Homo sapiens: one gene and its partner. The protein of the gene in region 1 purifies or fractionates together with the protein of each later gene. This does not show direct contact. Each region holds a gene or a part of one and is shown in the gene's direction. Other genes may lie near its edges.

Region 1 (3,753 bases):
CATACGACAATAGATTCTGGAGGGTGGGACGTTAAAGGAAGACATTTTAAGAATCAAAGAGTCTTAGCTGTGTTTATTGGGGTAGAGCCCTTGGGTGCAGAAACATTTAGGGATTCGGGAGAAAAAAGGGATGATGTTTGAAGGAGGCAGGAGGGAAGTGGACGGTGTCAGGAGGTTCAGCTCCTCCCCTGGAATGGGGAACCCTGAAGATTTGAAATGGATGTGGGAGCTCCAGACAGATGGCTTCCATGTTCCAAGTAAAGTACAACTTGAAGTACGACGTGATGGTGTTTGACATTTAACAGATGTCATCTGTTCTCTGCAGAGTCACTCAGCAGCCTCCCCTGTTGCAGACACCTCCTTAGGTTTGGAACACACTGTCTATACAGGGCCTAAGTGCAGGATTTTGGTGTGTTCCTTATTTCATTTATTTTTGTTTAACTTGTGGCAGATAAATACAGGTTATCAAAAGAATGGGACAATGAGTAAGCACACACCAAACTAAACAAAACAAAACAAATAGAAACATCACAAGTCTTGAATTTTTTTTTTTTTTTTTTTTTTTTTTTTTTTTTTTTTGGTCAAAGAAAGAACTCATTGGTTGATTTAAGTCGGTGGTAAATCAGAAAGTTGAAAATAAATCACCCTCCTTCTCCAGGGTTCTTCCGGATAGTTCAACTCTAAATTCAGCTGAGAGTATTTCTGATGCTCAAAGAAAAGTGTCTTAAACTCTGATGTTTTAATGTAGTTAAAAAAAACACAAAAAATCTTTGCTGAGGCCCAAGCTGAGGTCAAAAACTACCTCTAGCCATCTGGTGCTTTATTTTTATTGATTAGAAGTCTCTGATAAGACTGATTTGAATGTGATTTAGGAATATCACATTCTAAATGGTCAGTTTGCCTATTCCATTATAGAAATGACACTACGGGAAAATTCATCATCACAGACCACAGCAGAAGTGTTCTTTAGTTAAAGCTCTACCTAGTCATCCAGAAAGCCAGTAAGTAAACCAAATAAAAATAGTTCACTGGGCTCAGAGTGGCAAGTTTTGCATGCAAAGATCGTGAAAATTGTAACCCTAACAATAAATCCAATACTGTTCTCGACTCTCTTGTGTGTCCAGTGCTGCTGCAGTCCTTGGAAGGCTTTTAAACTGTTCAGAGCTTGCTGGTTATCTTCAGCCAAGCCAGAGAGTGGGAGTGCAGTGCATTTTAGTGTAACCATGCGGAACTGGTCGCTCCTTGATTTTGTGCCGTATGTTTCCATTTGTGTAGGCTTTTTCCCCCCTCAGTATTTTGTTGCTTATCCTTTAGAGCGAAATTGGTTTTTCCTCGGCCAATAATCTGTTTCTTTAAAAAAAGAAAAATTCGTTACCTATTGCCTTTTTTTCTGGTCTTCCTGAGCAAGCCAGAAGTCACAAGGTCGTTTACTAAACGGAAACTAAGAAAAAGAAAAGCCACATCAGCCGGCACAAGCCTCTCTAACTTGTGTGCCCTGAGGCTCATCAGATGCGAAGTCCTGGCGACAAGATAGGGTCGCCCGCAGTGGCTTCCTAAAGCGCAGATCCAGGCCGGCTCCCAGCGTGGAATCCGACCCATGTACTTCGCCTCTCCACGTGGCATCAGATGCTCTGCCGGCTGTCACCGTGAACTCCAGCCCTCGCGGAGCCGACACTGACCTGGCTACTTCAGAGTTCGGAGGGAAATAGCGTCTCCGTACCCTCGCCCCACCTGGGCTGCTCCTCGGACCGCCGCTCGTCCCAGACTCCAGGAGGCGCCACCAGGCCTCGCTGACCCCGCTCCATATCTCCGGGAGCCCTCAGCTGGTCGGCCGCGGCGACCGGAAGCTCCGGACTGAGGTACTGGTTCCGCCCGCCGCTCTTCCAGCCGAGACTCGGCAGCGGCGGTCGGAGCGGCTGCCACGCCGCACCTGCCCGCGAGGGGGCGCGCCAGGCCCAGGCCGCAGCCGACTGCCGCGCTCTCTGTCCCCGCCCTCCGCCATCCCCGGACTGCGCTCACCTGTCTGGGCCGCTGGCCTGGGAGGCGGGGGCCGGCGGGAGCCAAGCCGAGGAAAGGGCGGAGCGGCTCTCCGGGCGCGTCATCGGAGCACCATGGCGGAGCTAGGAGCTGGCGGCGACGGCCACAGGGGCGGCGACGGCGCAGTGCGAAGCGAAACAGGTGACCGCACAGCGGGGATAGTGGGGGTCCCGTCGGGCAGGGGACGGCGAGCGGGGCCGGCGGGCTGGCACCGAAATCACCCGGCGCCGGCAGCCCCCTCCCCGCCCGCGCGGCCGCGGCCCGGAACAACCGGCCCTGCGCGCCGCGCACCCTGCTCCGAGAGCGCCTTCCCCCGCCCTTCGCCGCCGCGGCTCGGCCAGCCCGGCTCGGCCCCGGCCGGGGTTGCGGCCGCCCTCGGGCGCTCCACCGCGACTTTCCCGCAACAGGTGGAGGCGAGCCGGGGGAGGAAACGGAGAGACCCCGGCCGCTGCCCTCCCCGCCGCGGCCTCGGGTCTAATTCAGTTGAATGGGAAATCGTATCCCCCAGACCAAACCAGTGGCCAGAGAGTCGTCGGCCAGGTGCGACTGGCAGGACGAGCAGTTTCTGGGCACCTCCTCCCGCCTTCCCTGGTCGCCCCGGGTGCCGGGGGCTCCTCAGCGGGGTCGGTGTGGGGCAGGACCGCGGGGTGAGCGGCCCGCCCCCCAATCTGGTGCCCGCAGTGGCGACGACCGTCGTCCGAGGGGACCGAGCTCGGGAGGGCCGGGGCCCAGTGCAGCACGGTGGGGGTTTGCGAGTGCGGGCTTGACGGGATCAGACTTTCGTTGACTTGTCGGAGTTCTCAGAGTTTTTTGTTTTTAGTCTGTGCAGGAGCCCAAAGGAGGATTGTTGGCTCTGCAGCCCGGGATTTGGTGGTCAGGCCTCTGTGTTGAGGATACCCCTCCCCCACAACCTCCAGGGGCACACTTAGGGACAGGGGATCACGTCCCCAAGACCAGCAGCAAGGCTTCCCAAGACCAGCAGCAAGGCTTCCCAACCCCGCCCATCTCTCCATAGTATGAAGCCGATTTTTCTCCCTCGTGATTTTTTTTTCTCCAGAGGCTATCTTGCAAATCCGTCCCTCTCCACTGGTTCCCTCTTCTATTCTTGGCCAGTAAGCTGTTTCTATATCTTCCTACACTTGGGGATGGGGGCAGTGAGGCAGTTTCTTACTTTAAAAAGAAATTCAATTCTTAGACTCTCCAATTGCAAGCTGTTTTCCACTTCCATACGGTCACAATCGGAAGCATTTGTTTCCTAAATGTAAGAATCACTGTCTCCCCACCATCAAGTATGCTTATTTTAACGTGAAAGGTCCAGAGAGCTCTGAAACAGTATTTGCAAATTATGTATCTGCTATTGCTAGGAAGAGGTTGGGTACGTAAAGTCTAATGATTTAATCCCTTCAGCCAAGATACCTGAGGTTAAGACTGACAAAGTATCTTGAACTTGTTTAAGTCATGCTCCTTCCTGTAGGGAGTTTGTCTTAATGTGTTCGCAAGATTGGTAGATCATTATTTTGTTTTGGGGTGGAGAAGAGATGCCTTTGTAATTGCTTTCGGGAATTTGATGAGCTAGACGCTGGGACGGGGCTCCCCCAAGTGAGGGCCCCGGGAGAGGAGCATCCTCATTTGTAAATATACGGCATGATTTTCGTTCCTAACCCTGACCCAGTAACTGCATGTGAAACAACATTGTTCTAGCGAGCTAAGTGTTAG
Region 2 (3,753 bases), on another chromosome or scaffold:
TGCAATTATCCATACTAAGTAAATGTCTACTAAAGAGACTTGTTACCATAAAAATTGTGAGCTATTAAGCAAATGTTAATGAAATTTATCTATTGTAAACTAAACTCATTTTGTGCTAAATATCATGACACAAACCACATCAAATAAAATAGTGAATTTTTAGTTTATGTGATGATGGAAACATTATTCGAATGATGATAATAGCAAATATAACTACTTACTTCAGCAGTGCTTTCCATCATTTGACAATTCTGAATGGTTTGCCTTCTATCCAGTTTTATATGCTATGCTATAGGCGGTATAATGAATACGGAAGTTGCCATTACTGCACAGAAAGGGCTTGCTATTTAATTAGGAAAATAAGGTTAACCACTGTCAAATAATATACCAGAACTCTTAGGACTTCAAGATTTACATTATAAACTAATTATCAATGTTGTCTAGTCCTTTTTTCTTTCTTCCTCTATGATTAAAATGAGTAATGGTATATTTAATGTCATAATGAATGCTAAGTGCACATGAGATAACTCATGTATACATTTGTATACTTTAAAAATGTATACTTAAGTAAGCTTTACATGTGTGGTTTTATTTGTTGCTTATTTTAAATACTCTAGTAGTCCCAGAACTAGTCACATACCCACAAGTTAACCCAACAGAAGAATTGCTCCTGGACTGTAAAATTGCATTGTGAACCTAGGAATAACTTCTTTACTCTTTTAAAGGAGTGGGTCTGAACAGCACTACTCAGAGTGTTCTGAGTCGCCCAATGCAGAGGAAGCTTGTGACTCTAGTCCACTGTCAACTAGTAGAAGAAGAAGGCAGGATTCGTGCCATGAGGGCAGCTCGATCTTTAGGTGAACGAACAGTTACAGAGCTCATTCTCCAGCACCAGAATCCTCAGCAACTCTCTTCCAATCTTTGGGCAGCAGTAAGGGCTAGGGGATGCCAGTTCCTTGGACCAGGTACATAATTAACTTTAGGTATTTATTCTGCTGGTAATTCTAAAAGTATGATGTAGGAATTATAAGTGATGTACAAAGCCTAGTTCTTTGCAGTATTTTATTGTTACCAACTAATATCTTGTTTGATGTTCATGGCTTGGGCAATTCCATGTAACTTAGTGGACTTACTAGGTGAACTTAGTGAACTTAAAACTTTTCTCTTAATGCCAAAAGTTGTTTCTTTTTTTAATTTTTTGATTTTTCCTTTTTTTCACACCTGTAGCAGGAAGTTCATTCATTTTGATAGAAGTTTTTCTTAAATTTATTAATCACTTTATCTGTTTTCTTTATAAAATATATAGAATGTAATACAAAATTGCTCACAAAAATGGTGTAAAAGTGTGTTGCTGGTTAATCTTAACTGTATTGCCAGTTAATTGAATAGCTGCAGAAATGATTAAATATTCCCCTTCTAATAAATGGATTTATCTTATCTATGTACTTGATAAATTTTGGTTTTGCCCAACTTTCCCTAGCAATGCAGGAGGAAGCTTTAAAGTTGGTTCTGCTGGCCTTAGAAGATGGTTCTGCTTTGTCAAGAAAAGTATTGGTTCTGTTTGTGGTGCAAAGATTGGAGCCACGGTTTCCTCAAGCCTCTAAAACTAGCATTGGGCATGTTGTTCAGCTCCTTTATAGAGCCTCCTGTTTCAAGGTATGAACCTACATTAAAGCTCAGCTTGAAAGGAAATATTGTTCTTTCCCCAAAGTTAAGTAGTAAAACTTTGAGTTTAATAAAGTTGCCTGTATCTTTTCAGAAAATCTCAGCAATTTTTCTTTATTCTTTTAAAGAATGTAGATGGGGTCTTATTATAGTTAAATACTATTATATTGAATTTTTGTATGTTCAATATTGAACAACATAGATCAAGTCAAGGTTTATAGATTTTTGTATTTGAAGAGACTAAGAAACTATATCAATTTCTTACCAAGACTGTGCAGAATTGGTCTGAAGAGAGAGTTATTGAAGCACAAATAAATTTTATTTATTTATTTTTATTTTTTTGAGACAAAGTCTTGCTGTCGCCCAGGCTGGAGTGCAGTGCATGATCTCGGCTCACTGCAACCTCCACCTCCTGCGTTCAAGCGATTCTCCTGTCTCAGCCTCCCGAGTAGCTGGGATTATAGGCAGGGCCACTGCACCTGGCTACTTTTTGTATTTTTGGTAGAGACGGGGTTTCGCCATGTTGGCCAGGCTGGTCTCGAACTCCTGACCTCAGGTGATCTGCCCGCCTCAGCCTCCCAAAGTGCTGGGATTACAAGCGTGAGCCACCGCGCCCAGCCAAATAAATTTTATTCAGAGATTTTCTCCTAGTGTAATTCCACATATACAATAATGAAGTTCCATTTGCCATTTCAGTTTATATGGTAATGCTGGACATAGTCTCTTATCCCAAATTGAATAAGCACCGCCTCAAACATTGCTACTCACTATGTATCATTTATTGTACATCCAGTATTATTTTTCTGACTTTTTTTTTTGAGATGCAGTCTTGCTCTGTCGCCCAGGCTGGAGTGCAGTGGTGTAGTCTTGGCTCACTGCATCCTCTGCCTTCTGGGTCAAGCAATTCTCCTGCCTCCAGCCTTCTAATCATAATCATTATGATTATTCTAGTCTAGCATCTCACACTTTACACTTTCTGGTAGTAGCCCATCCCACAAAACTCCATGAAGAATTAAGCCAAGTACAAATTAAATCATTTTTAGAATTACACCAGCATCTGAAGCTCTACAGTCATCAGTCCCACCTAGCTCATTGTCAGGCAATCCCAAGAGTCATAATCCACATTTATGGAGAAGAAACATATTGTTTTTCAGAATATAGAATTGTATTAGTATTTTTTTCTTTTCAAAAATACATATACACACACATACACCTTAAACTGAATGTATATGTTAAAGTATGTCAAATCTTTGGATTTCATTCCAGCACATACAGATTGACTATACAAAAATCCAAAATCCAAAACTTTTTGAACACCAACATGATGCTCACATGCTCATTGGGGCATTTCAGATTTTCAGAGTAAGGATGCTCAAGTGGTTTAATGCAGATATTCTAAAATTTGAAAAAATCTGAAATCTGATAACACTTCTGGCCCAAGCATTTTGGGTAAGAGATTCTCAGCCTGTATTTATTCTTTCTGAAAGACCTATCCAGAAAATGTTGGCCTAAATCCAACTTGACTCAGAATGGGATGATAGCAATATACCTACCTCAACAAGTTAAGGAGAAAATATTTTGCAGGCAAATGGTATATTCATTTAATCTTGCTGTTGATGCTAAATTTGTTACATTAAAAATTATATGTTCATATAAAGCATAAACTCATTTTTTTGACTTCATTATGAGATTATTTGTGTCTTATTAGGTCACCAAACGTGATGAAGACTCTTCTTTGATGCAGCTGAAAGAAGAATTTAGAACCTATGAAGCTCTGCGGCGAGAACATGACTCCCAGATAGTGCAGATTGCTATGGAAGCAGGCTTACGAATTGCACCGGACCAGTGGTCCTCTTTGCTTTATGGAGACCAGTCTCACAAATCTCATATGCAGTCCATTATTGACAAGGTAGGACCTTTTTTGTTCCTTACTTCTTAGACTAATCTTGGCATTTTGGTAATTCATTTAACAAATGTATATTAAAGTGAATACTGTATAGCTTTTGTAAATTGTATTTATAGCCAGTGTCATGTCATAACCAATCACGTTATAATACCACTTTGTTCATTTAAAGATTTGATTAGTTT

What was found. Proteins that work in one complex are often made in the same cells at the same time.
Region 2: the proteins of MAP7 (region 1) and RC3H1 purify together in Homo sapiens (affinity purification with western blotting; 2 studies listed by BioGRID, with this or other methods). This does not show direct contact.

The regions. Positions count from the first base shown.
Region 1 is NC_000006.12:136,548,767-136,552,519, reverse strand, and holds the start of MAP7 (ensconsin), read left to right. Parts: upstream 1-2,097; 5' UTR 2,098-2,111; coding exon 2,112-2,178; intron 2,179-3,753. UniProt on the Homo sapiens protein: Microtubule-stabilizing protein that may play an important role during reorganization of microtubules during polarization and differentiation of epithelial cells. Associates with microtubules in a dynamic manner.
Region 2 is NC_000001.11:173,980,630-173,984,382, reverse strand, and holds part of RC3H1 (roquin-1), read left to right. Parts: intron 1-725; coding exon 726-965; intron 966-1,480; coding exon 1,481-1,656; intron 1,657-3,373; coding exon 3,374-3,574; intron 3,575-3,753. UniProt on the Homo sapiens protein: Post-transcriptional repressor of mRNAs containing a conserved stem loop motif, called constitutive decay element (CDE), which is often located in the 3'-UTR, as in HMGXB3, ICOS, IER3, NFKBID, NFKBIZ, PPP1R10, TNF, TNFRSF4 and in many more mRNAs.